Homo sapiens: one gene and its partners. The protein of the gene in region 2 purifies or fractionates together with the protein of the main gene of each other region. This does not show direct contact. Each region holds a gene or a part of one and is shown on either strand. Other genes may lie near its edges.

The links. Proteins that work in one complex are often made in the same cells at the same time.
Region 1: the proteins of TAS2R8 (region 2) and SERPINB8 purify together in Homo sapiens (affinity purification with mass spectrometry; one large-scale study listed by BioGRID and IntAct). This does not show direct contact.
Region 3: the proteins of TAS2R8 (region 2) and NEIL1 purify together in Homo sapiens (affinity purification with mass spectrometry; one large-scale study listed by BioGRID and IntAct). This does not show direct contact.

Annotation. Positions count from the first base shown.
Region 1 is NC_000018.10:63,983,581-63,987,080, reverse strand, and holds part of SERPINB8 (serpin B8), read right to left. Parts: coding exon 3,360-3,500; intron 1,989-3,359; coding exon 1,836-1,988; intron 824-1,835; coding exon of another isoform or gene 815-823; exon of another isoform or gene 431-814; intron 208-430; coding exon 1-207. UniProt on the Homo sapiens protein: Has an important role in epithelial desmosome-mediated cell-cell adhesion.
Region 2 is NC_000012.12:10,805,551-10,808,533, reverse strand, and holds TAS2R8 (taste receptor type 2 member 8), read left to right. Parts: upstream 1-1,247; 5' UTR 1,248-1,553; coding exon 1,554-2,483; downstream 2,484-2,983. UniProt on the Homo sapiens protein: Receptor that may play a role in the perception of bitterness and is gustducin-linked. May play a role in sensing the chemical composition of the gastrointestinal content.
Region 3 is NC_000015.10:75,350,039-75,353,538, reverse strand, and holds part of NEIL1 (endonuclease 8-like 1), read right to left. Parts: intron 2,239-3,500; coding exon of another isoform or gene 2,163-2,238; intron 1,508-2,162; coding exon of another isoform or gene 1,429-1,507; coding exon 1,309-1,428; intron 1,216-1,308; coding exon 1,152-1,215; intron 938-1,151; coding exon 838-937; coding exon of another isoform or gene 797-837; exon of another isoform or gene 557-796; intron 1-556. UniProt on the Homo sapiens protein: Involved in base excision repair of DNA damaged by oxidation or by mutagenic agents. Acts as a DNA glycosylase that recognizes and removes damaged bases.

The DNA of each region.
Region 1 (3,500 bases), on a different chromosome or scaffold from region 2:
AGGCACATTCTTCTCAGTTGACATTCCAGAAAAGTCTGCCTTGGCTTCGTCAAAAGCATCGATCATTCCTAATCTTCGAAGGAAAGGCTCCAAGTCATAACTCTCCTCCAGCTTTAATCTGGGAAGGAAAACTTGAACCTTACTTTTTGTCAACTTTTCTGAATTTGTCCAGGCTTTGAATTTCTCATATGTAAGTGCTTTTTCCACCTAGGATAAGAAAGACTCAAACCTTAAAATTTAGATGACAATAGCCTGATACCCACACACCCATTTATTACCCCTCCCCCAATGACATGCAATTAGATGGTGAGTTCTGGTCCAAGAAAATCTACAGATATTTTCTTTTATAAACACACCAAGATTTTCTCCCAAATTTTCATCTTTTCACAGTTTTATGGAGACAAGTGTAAAAGAGCTAGTAAACACCTGAGACAGGCAGAAATTTTTAATAAAAACAATTTGTACCTAACTCCTTTCAAATGTTAAAAACATTTTTTAACAGTTTAGAAAATTCTAACCAATTCATTACATTAATCTTCATGCAATACATACTACTGTGAGTGGGAGAGATTGTTTGACAAAAGACAAAGAGCATGGCTCAGAACTCTGCTTCTGAGTCTAATGAGGGGACTATTCAGGGTTAAATCAGAGGGCAACTCAGAGTAAAAGAGAGGGAATTGTGTTTCATCTGAAGATGAAGGGAGGCATGAGAAGGGAGCATGAGACGAGAAATGGGGAATGCAAGAAGACTTCATCAGCATCCTTGTTTGTCCTCTGCCTGTCCTGGAGTTAGCTTCAAATTCTTCAAGATCCATCACTCTTTCTATTTATCAATAAGGTAGAAAGAAAAAAGGGAGAAAGGCCTTCCACTAGCATCTCCCCTTCCCTTTAACAACTGGAGCCCAGGTGGGTACTCCTCTCCAACGAGCATTGTTTTGATTTTGACTCTATTTCTAGACTCTCCTAATTTTCTCATAAGTGGCCACAACAGATGTCATCCCTGACTTAGGGCAGTAGCTTTCTGATTCCAAAGGGAAGCCAGGAAAATCAAGCAGCCCACCCTCAACATCCTGTGCATTGGTGTGCCAGAGCTGACCCCTATCAATTGTTAAACCCTCAGTAGACTAAAGTCGGCCATGGTGGGAGTATTTACCATGTCATGAGAATCAGCAAACTTTATAAATGAAGGCTTCTCCCACCTCCCAGAGCTGGTTTACAAGTGCACTATTAGTCTTGCACCTCCTACCTTGCAAGTTTACCACTTCCCTTCCTGGACTCTGTTCCTTTTCTGTCACAGTAAGACTTTTCTCTCCTCTTGTATAAGGTAAATTTCCCACCTGTACTTTAGACTTTTGCTATTCATAGTGTGGTTCCAAGCATCTGTATCACTTGGAATCTTGTTACAAATGCAACATCTCAGGCCACACTCCATTGAATCAAAATCTGCACTTTAACAAGATCACTAGAATCATATATGTGCATTAGTGTTTGAGAATCACTGCCAAGATTGATCCCTACCCTTCTTCCAGGACTTTTGTGCAATAATCATTGGGCTTTCAAATAGACCTTCCATGCAGAATAAAGAATAATATTCCAAATAATAATATATTTAGAACTCTCTCTTCTTAGCTTCATCAAAACTTGTCCACTCATATATGTATACACTCAACAGAAATGCATGAACATGTTCATCAAAAGACACACAATGATGTTCACCCAGCACTGCCTGTAATAACCCCAACTGGAAACTCCTCAAATGCCAATTGGTAGATGAACATAAAGAAATGAGCTCAGCTGGACTCCACAGATACTCAGGCTCATTGCCTGGAGCTTACCACGGCGAGGTCCGTGTTGTCATCGGGAAGCAGAATGACCATGCTCAGCTCCTCTTCCACATAGGGCAGCTCCAGGACCTGGGTGTGTACCTCATCCGCATACCCCATTTTAAACTTAGCTTCCTTAAACATCATCTGCACTGTCTTTTTTTCCTAACGGAAAAATTAAAGTTCGATTACTGAAAAGTGGGTATAATTTACTAAAAATAGGATATATCTAACTCACAGAAACTCTAGGTGTGTATAATTACTGTTTCTGCACATTTATGCTGATAGATATAAAATCTTCATTAGTACATCTTAGTATTGAATAGAACAAGCTATTGTTCCAGCAGATCAAATATTACCAGGTGAGAAAAAAAAAACAGTTTGGTAAATGGAGAAGGACACAAAAATTGACATTATCCTTGGAAGAAGCTGTGTTTGCTTTTTTGAGAACATTCACAGAGAAGCTTTCTCATGGAAGCTTCCAACTAAAAATTCTTTATCGAAGTTAAGATAAATATTCAGGCCCTTGGGCTGAAGGATCTGGTTAGAAAAGATGTACGGTCCAAACTCTGGAAAGTTGCCTTGTTGTAGAATTGGTTTTATGGCCTTGGCTTTCTTAGGAAGGGGACCTTGAAGAGATGTGTAAGGTCTGCTGTTTTTAAAGCCTGCATCAAATATATTTTTAACTTTCATATCTTTGTGCAATATGAGAGTATCATATTTGATGGATGTCAAATCCCAAGCTAACAACTATTGATACCAGCCATTTTAATATTCAAAAGGGAAGGTAAAGTTAGGCTTTACATCTGCTAACTTTTTTTTCTTGTGCTCAGGATTGTATAACTTTGACTTTTAAGGCAATAAATAGGCATAGTTGCCACTGATATTGCAAAAAGGTATCTAACTAAATACAGAGAGTAATAGCATCATGCAAACATAATTCCAAGGCTTAGAAGAAATTCTCCTCCAATCCAAATCATATGACCAGAGATGGAAGGTAGATTTGATCAAAGATGGAAAAACAAAACTATCAATACCAAAATTATTTTTGTTTCTCTCTTCCTTCCGCCATTAAAGATACACAGGAGGCATTAAATTCATTCAGAAAAGAAGCCAGGCACAGTGGCTCCTGCCTGTAATTCCAGAACTTTGGGAGGATAAGGCAGGTGTATCACTTGAGGCCAGGAGTTTGAGACCAACCTGGGCAATATGACAAAACCTTATCTCTACAAAAAATACAAAAATTAGCCAGGCCTGGTGGTGTGCACCTGTAGTCACAGCTACTTGGGAAGCTAAGGTTGGGGAATCATTTGAGCCTGGGAGGTCGAGGCTGCAGTGAGCTGAGATTACACCACTGCACTCCAGCCTGGGTGACAAAAAGAGACCCTGTCTCAAAGAAAATAAAATAATATAATATAATTCAGAAATAGATTAAAATCAAGATCATGTCAAATAAATTATTCATTTTTCCAAGAGAATATTTCCTGTAATATTACTTTAAGAAAGTAGCAGTATATCTGAAAAATCTTTCCCTACCTCGTTGGTTTTAAAGAGCATTCCCCTTGTGTACTTTCTGTCAAATTGCTCATTCCACTTTCCCTTGAAATAAATGGCATTCACAAGGACCAGCTTTGTCAGGGGATCGACTGTCCCAGCATCCAGTACCTCTGAAATCTT
Region 2 (2,983 bases):
AGTTATGTATAGCAGAACCACCTTGAGAAAGAAGGTTGAGGGTCCCAGTAGTCAGCGTGTTCATGAGTACTCTAGCTGGTGATGGCAATTTTAGAAGTCATTTCCCAAAGATTCCCTGGAATGTTCTCTCTAGCCTTCTAACTCAGAAATCTCTGACATATTTTTTTCCCTCTGCATCATTTTCTTTTCTATTTTGTTTCCAGCAGTAGTTTATAGATAACTAGGTTTCTTTAAGTTATTAAGTTTATGCTTTCCTGTTACACATTACACACATGTAAGAAATAGAAAAAATCCTGCATGTGTTGTATACATTGTAGAACTATTTAAATACAAGAAGCCCTAGGGTATTGTGATTTGTATTACCTACATTCAAATGTATTTTGGGCTAAGTTGTACTTTCCCTTACCCCAAAACAAATAAATCTAATTTAATAGTAGAATTAGTCCTATTCCTTGGAAATACTGGTATGTAAAAAAAAAAAATTATTATTATTATTTTGAGACAGAGTCTCACTGTATCGCCCAGGTTGGAGTGCAGTGGCACGATCTTGGCTCACTGCAACCTCTGCCTCCCGGTTCAAATGATCCCCCTGCCTCAGTCTCCCAAGTAGTTACTTTTTTATGTGTTTGCCCTATCTAGAAATATGACTATAATATGCACTGTGAGATTACAAATCTTATAAAAGGAGTTGATTGGAACTAGAATAATGTAAAATTTAAATTTTCTTAATTTTAGATTACAATGCTTATTATACAAGAGACAGTGATTCAGGAAATGAATTGTCTTCAAGGGTATTTGTCACATTAAAAAAAAACTAAAGATAACAAATCTTTACCTGGCATATTTCACTTCTGAGGAACAATTGAAAAGAAAGCAAATTCTTAGTAAATATTATCATGTGCCTGCCTAAAAAAAAGTCATTTCTAATTAGATTTGTATTATATCCTTCCCTAATTAGCCGTTTAAATGAAGACAAGAATTATTATCCTCTGACTAAATGTTAAATATCTACAATCTAATTGTACTAATTACTTCCAAAGTGAAAATTTCTTTGCATCTGGGAGAACTGATTTGTGGCTTATTTATAACTTACATGATGAAAATGAAGTTTTATTTACACAGTTGGGTTTTTATTAAACATTTATCTCTTTTTTTATGACTCCCTATTCAAAACTCAATTTGAAGATCCAAATATAGAGCTACAGCAAGAAGCCTGTTGCAAATTCATGATATAAAATCTCTTTGAATTTGCATGGGAGCAATTTCAGCCAAACATTTCAGGTATCACTCACTAAAGGATAATAATTATAATTTTTCCAGGCTATAAATAACTAGTCAAGCTGCTCATTAGTTGGTTTCATCTTCAGGAGTGTAGAGACAATCCTATTTCAGAGGAGAGCTGAACACTTCCGGAAGAATAACAACGTCGAAATAACAGCAGATGAAAACATTATTGCATGATTCGAAGAATTGATCTATCATGCTTTAACAGGTCACCTGTAAATTAGCTCATCTACAGTGATATTTGAAATCAGATTGTTCTCTCTACAAACATGTTCAGTCCTGCAGATAACATCTTTATAATCCTAATAACTGGAGAATTCATACTAGGAATATTGGGGAATGGATACATTGCACTAGTCAACTGGATTGACTGGATTAAGAAGAAAAAGATTTCCACAGTTGACTACATCCTTACCAATTTAGTTATCGCCAGAATTTGTTTGATCAGTGTAATGGTTGTAAATGGCATTGTAATAGTACTGAACCCAGATGTTTATACAAAAAATAAACAACAGATAGTCATTTTTACCTTCTGGACATTTGCCAACTACTTAAATATGTGGATTACCACCTGCCTTAATGTCTTCTATTTTCTGAAGATAGCCAGTTCCTCTCATCCACTTTTTCTCTGGCTGAAGTGGAAAATTGATATGGTGGTGCACTGGATCCTGCTGGGATGCTTTGCCATTTCCTTGTTGGTCAGCCTTATAGCAGCAATAGTACTGAGTTGTGATTATAGGTTTCATGCAATTGCCAAACATAAAAGAAACATTACTGAAATGTTCCATGTGAGTAAAATACCATACTTTGAACCCTTGACTCTCTTTAACCTGTTTGCAATTGTCCCATTTATTGTGTCACTGATATCATTTTTCCTTTTAGTAAGATCTTTATGGAGACATACCAAGCAAATAAAACTCTATGCTACCGGCAGTAGAGACCCCAGCACAGAAGTTCATGTGAGAGCCATTAAAACTATGACTTCATTTATCTTCTTTTTTTTCCTATACTATATTTCTTCTATTTTGATGACCTTTAGCTATCTTATGACAAAATACAAGTTAGCTGTGGAGTTTGGAGAGATTGCAGCAATTCTCTACCCCTTGGGTCACTCACTTATTTTAATTGTTTTAAATAATAAACTGAGGCAGACATTTGTCAGAATGCTGACATGTAGAAAAATTGCCTGCATGATATGAAATCTTAGCTGTATAAATGGAATTTAAAACCAAATCTTCTCTAACAAAAAATATAGTTTTCTTAATAGTCTATTCTCATTTTTCCCCAGTTATCTCATTTATTTTGGATGCATATCTTTAAATATTATTAGGACCTAGTAGCAAACTACTGAATACATCTTTTCTATCCCTTTACAACTCAGAAATGCTCATCTTTACACTCCCTTTCCTCGAAGAATTTCAGAGCTCATGCTTCTCTTCTTGTCTCCTCAACGCAAGTGTTAGGCCTGTATTGCCTAGTTAAAGTCTTTTTAGATTTTACTTTGGCTCATGGTAAAGTGGACCTGAGCTACAGTAACTGGTTTCTCATTTTTCTTTGTCATACATTTTTATTGCCGCTCCTTAATTGTGCTCCTTTCATGGCTCTGCTGAGTCACCCCCATTTGGCTTATTGATTAGGAACTCAGATGTTCTCTGGTCTGTCTTTGGTTTTCCCGAATGATGATTTCCATGGTCTCCTA
Region 3 (3,500 bases), on a different chromosome or scaffold from region 2:
AGAATCCTTGTCCTGGCCCTGTGCAGTGGCCACACCTGTAATCCCGACACTTTGGGAAGCTTAGATGGGAGAATCCCTAGGGGCCAGGAGTTCAATACCAGCCTGGGCAACATAGGGAGACCCTGTCTCTACAAAAAAAATTTTTAACAATTAGCCCGGTGTGGTGGTGTGAGCCTGTAGTCCTAGCTACTTAGAGGCAGATGTGGGAGGATCACTTGAGCCCAGTTTGAGGCTAGTCCAGGCAACATGGCAAGATCCTATCTCTACCAAAAATATATATAAACGTGCGTGTGTGTGTGTGTGTGTGTGTGTGTATAAATATATAAAAGAATCCTTGTCCTGCCTGTCTCATGGGCAGCTTGGAGGAAACACTGTTTTTTTGTTTTTTTTTTTTTTGAGATGGAGTTTTGCTCTTGTTGCCCAGGCTGGAGTGCAATGGCACGATCTCAGCTCAACTGCAACCTCCACCTCCTGGGTTTAAGCGATTTTCCTGCCTCATCCTCCCGAGTAGCTGAGATTACAGGTGCCCACCACCACACCTGGCTAATTTTTTGCATTTTTAGTAGAGATGGGGTTTCACCATGTTGGCCAGGATGGTCTCGAACTCCTGACCTCAGGTGAGCCACCCCACTCGGCCTCCCGAAGTGCTGGGATTACAGGCATGAGCCACTGCGCCCAGCCTGGAAACACTATTGACAAGTGAGGAGGCCTAGTCCATTGAGTATCAGCTAGGGCTACAAACTTCCAAATCGGTGAATCAGGTCCAGAGAGGGACAAGTGCCCCAGGGTTACACAATCATTTGCTGAAGCAGAGGTTGCTGCCATCTTTGGCCTCACCCAACTGGACCACTTCCTTGGGCACTGAGTGACATAGCTCCAGCAGGTCTGGATTCTGCAGCTTGGTCCTTATCTTCTGGCTCAGGGTCAGCTCCGGGCTCTGAGGAAGGGGCAGGGGCAGGACCTGTCTGTCAGCAGGGCCATGTAAAGGCAGCTGACCTTCTCTCTGAGCTTGGTCAGACTTTGGGCAGTTCATCCCCTCCCCACCCCTGTTGTTGAGCTAAGCTGGGGACACCTGACCCCACCCATCTCCTTGCCGGCCCATGTGGACACCAGTGTGCCAGCACGTGTGCTCCATCCCTCTCTGGGCTTACCGGCCTGTGCTGCTGCAGGGCCTCCAGGACCGAGCGGGCCTTCTCAAAGGGGGGGATCTTCAGCCTGTAGTGGGGGCAAGGCAAGCCATGCTAGGCAGTGGGGAATGTGGGCACACCTGGCCCACCGCAGTCCCCATGCCCATGCCTGCTTGCTGACCGGTACAGGATCTCTGCCCGCAGATAGTTGCCAATGCCATTGAAGAACCTCTGGTCCAGGAGGGCCTCGCAGATGGGCCGGTCAAAGGCCTTATCCGCTAGGTTTCGTAGCACATTCTCCCTGGAGGAACACGGTCTGGGTGCGTAAGACCCATCCCCACCCTCCATGGGATGGGGAGAGGGGCTCAGAGAACCTGTTTCTGGGTGCAAGGGGAAGGAAACTGGGAGTTACAGTTCCTCTTCTCCCTGCCCCCGTTTTCCTATCTGTTAAATGGGAACATCAAGGGATTTAAATTCATTGTGAAAGGACGGCCAGGTGCAGTGGCTCATGCCTGTAATCTCAGCACTTTGGGAGGCCGAGGCGGGCAGATCACTTGAGGTCAGGAGGTCGAGACCAGCCTGGCCAACATGGTGAAACCCTGTCTCTACTAAAAATTCAAAATTAGCCAGGCATGATGGTGGGTGCCTGTAATCCCAGCTACTTGGGAGGCCTGAAGCAGCAGAATCTCTGGAACCTGGGAGGTGGAGGTTGCAGTGAGCTGAGATCGCAGCATTGCACTCCAGCCTGGGCCACAGAGCGAGACTCCATCTCAAAAAATAAAAACAAAATTAAAAATAAATTCATTGTGAAAGGTGAAAAATACTGATCTAAAGTAACTTGAGGCTGGTGTGGTGGCTCACACCTGTAATCCCAGCATTCTGGGAAGCTGAAGCAGGAGGATCACTTCAGCCCAGGAGACCAGCCTGGGCAACAAGGAAGACCCCATCTCTACCAAAAATTTAAGAAGTAGCCAGGGGCTTAGTGATGCACTCCTGTGGTTCCAGTTAATCAGGAGGTTGAGGTGAGAGAATCACCTGAGCCCTGGAGGTTAAGGCTGCAATGAGCTGTGATGGCGCCACTGTACTCTAGCCTAGGCAACAGAGCGAGACCCTGTCTCAAAAAAAAAAAAAAAAAAAGCAACATGAGGTTGTATATGAGGTTGTGTGTTTATCACCTCAGACTCCTCAGGACATGAGAACAGTGTGGCCACAGGACCTCAAGTGTGTTTGCAGTCTGGAGCTCCCTGTATAGCATTTGTGGTGGGTTAGAGACCATATGTGGGTTTGCCATTGGTAGGGTCCATTCTTCTCAAGATCCTGGACATTGTCTGGCTCTGTGCAGGAGATATGTGGAGTACCAGTGAGGGCCCTAGCAGCCCCCACCCCACCTCCAAGGGTCATGGGTCTCCCCTCCTCACCGTGAAGAGGATGTGCATCTTGTTTCTTTGCGGAAAAGGGTCATGGCAAGACTGACTAATGGGTGTGATGAGTGGGTCAGAAGACAGAGTTCTGGGGTGAAGGTACAAGGGTAGCCTGGGAGGTGCCCTGATCCCTGAGGTAAGCCAATTGCCACACGCCCCAGCTGGGGGACTAAGAAAACAGCCCAAATGCTCGTGGTTTGAGAGAAACTTCAGAGCCAGCTGGCAGAGTTAACTTGTGGCGTGACTCCCCAGGAAGGCTGAGGTGGGAGGAATCCAGGACCAAAGACAGATGTTTCCCTGGGGATGTGCTTGGAGTTCACACAGGGGAAGGCCAGGAGTCAACTTTCTTCTAAGGCACCAGAGACATCTCCAACCCATCCCACAGGTATCCAAGTCTCCTAAGGGTCAACGGACGCACAGCATCCCCCAGAAAGGGAGAACTTGCCAACCCTACTCCAGGCCTCTGCATTTGTGACTCTTGCCAGTTCCAATGCCTTCCTCTGGCTGGCTCCTTCTCATCAGTCAGGCCTCAGCTCAAACCTCCCTAGAGTGGCCATTGCTAATGTACCCCCACCCTCGGCCAAGTCATCCTCTACCTCCTTCACCTGTTGGGTTTTCCTAAGGCATGGGTCCATTTCTCATTCCCCTATCCTATGTGAACATCAGTTCTGTGGGAGCAGGGACCACATTCATCTTGTTCACTGCTGTACCCCGAGCCCCTAGAACAAGGCCTGGCATGAAGCAGAGACTCATACACGTTTCCTCTTCAGAGGAAAGGAAGTGGCCAACACTGTGCCATGTGAGGTGACCTGCATCACATCCCAGGTGGGGCTGTTACACCCTACTGCAGGCAGGGAAGTGGCGCAGAGGAGACCACAGGACACAGAATACTGGGCAGGCCGGATGTGGGAGACCACAAAGCCCAAGGCGGAAGCCATGTCATGAGATAGTC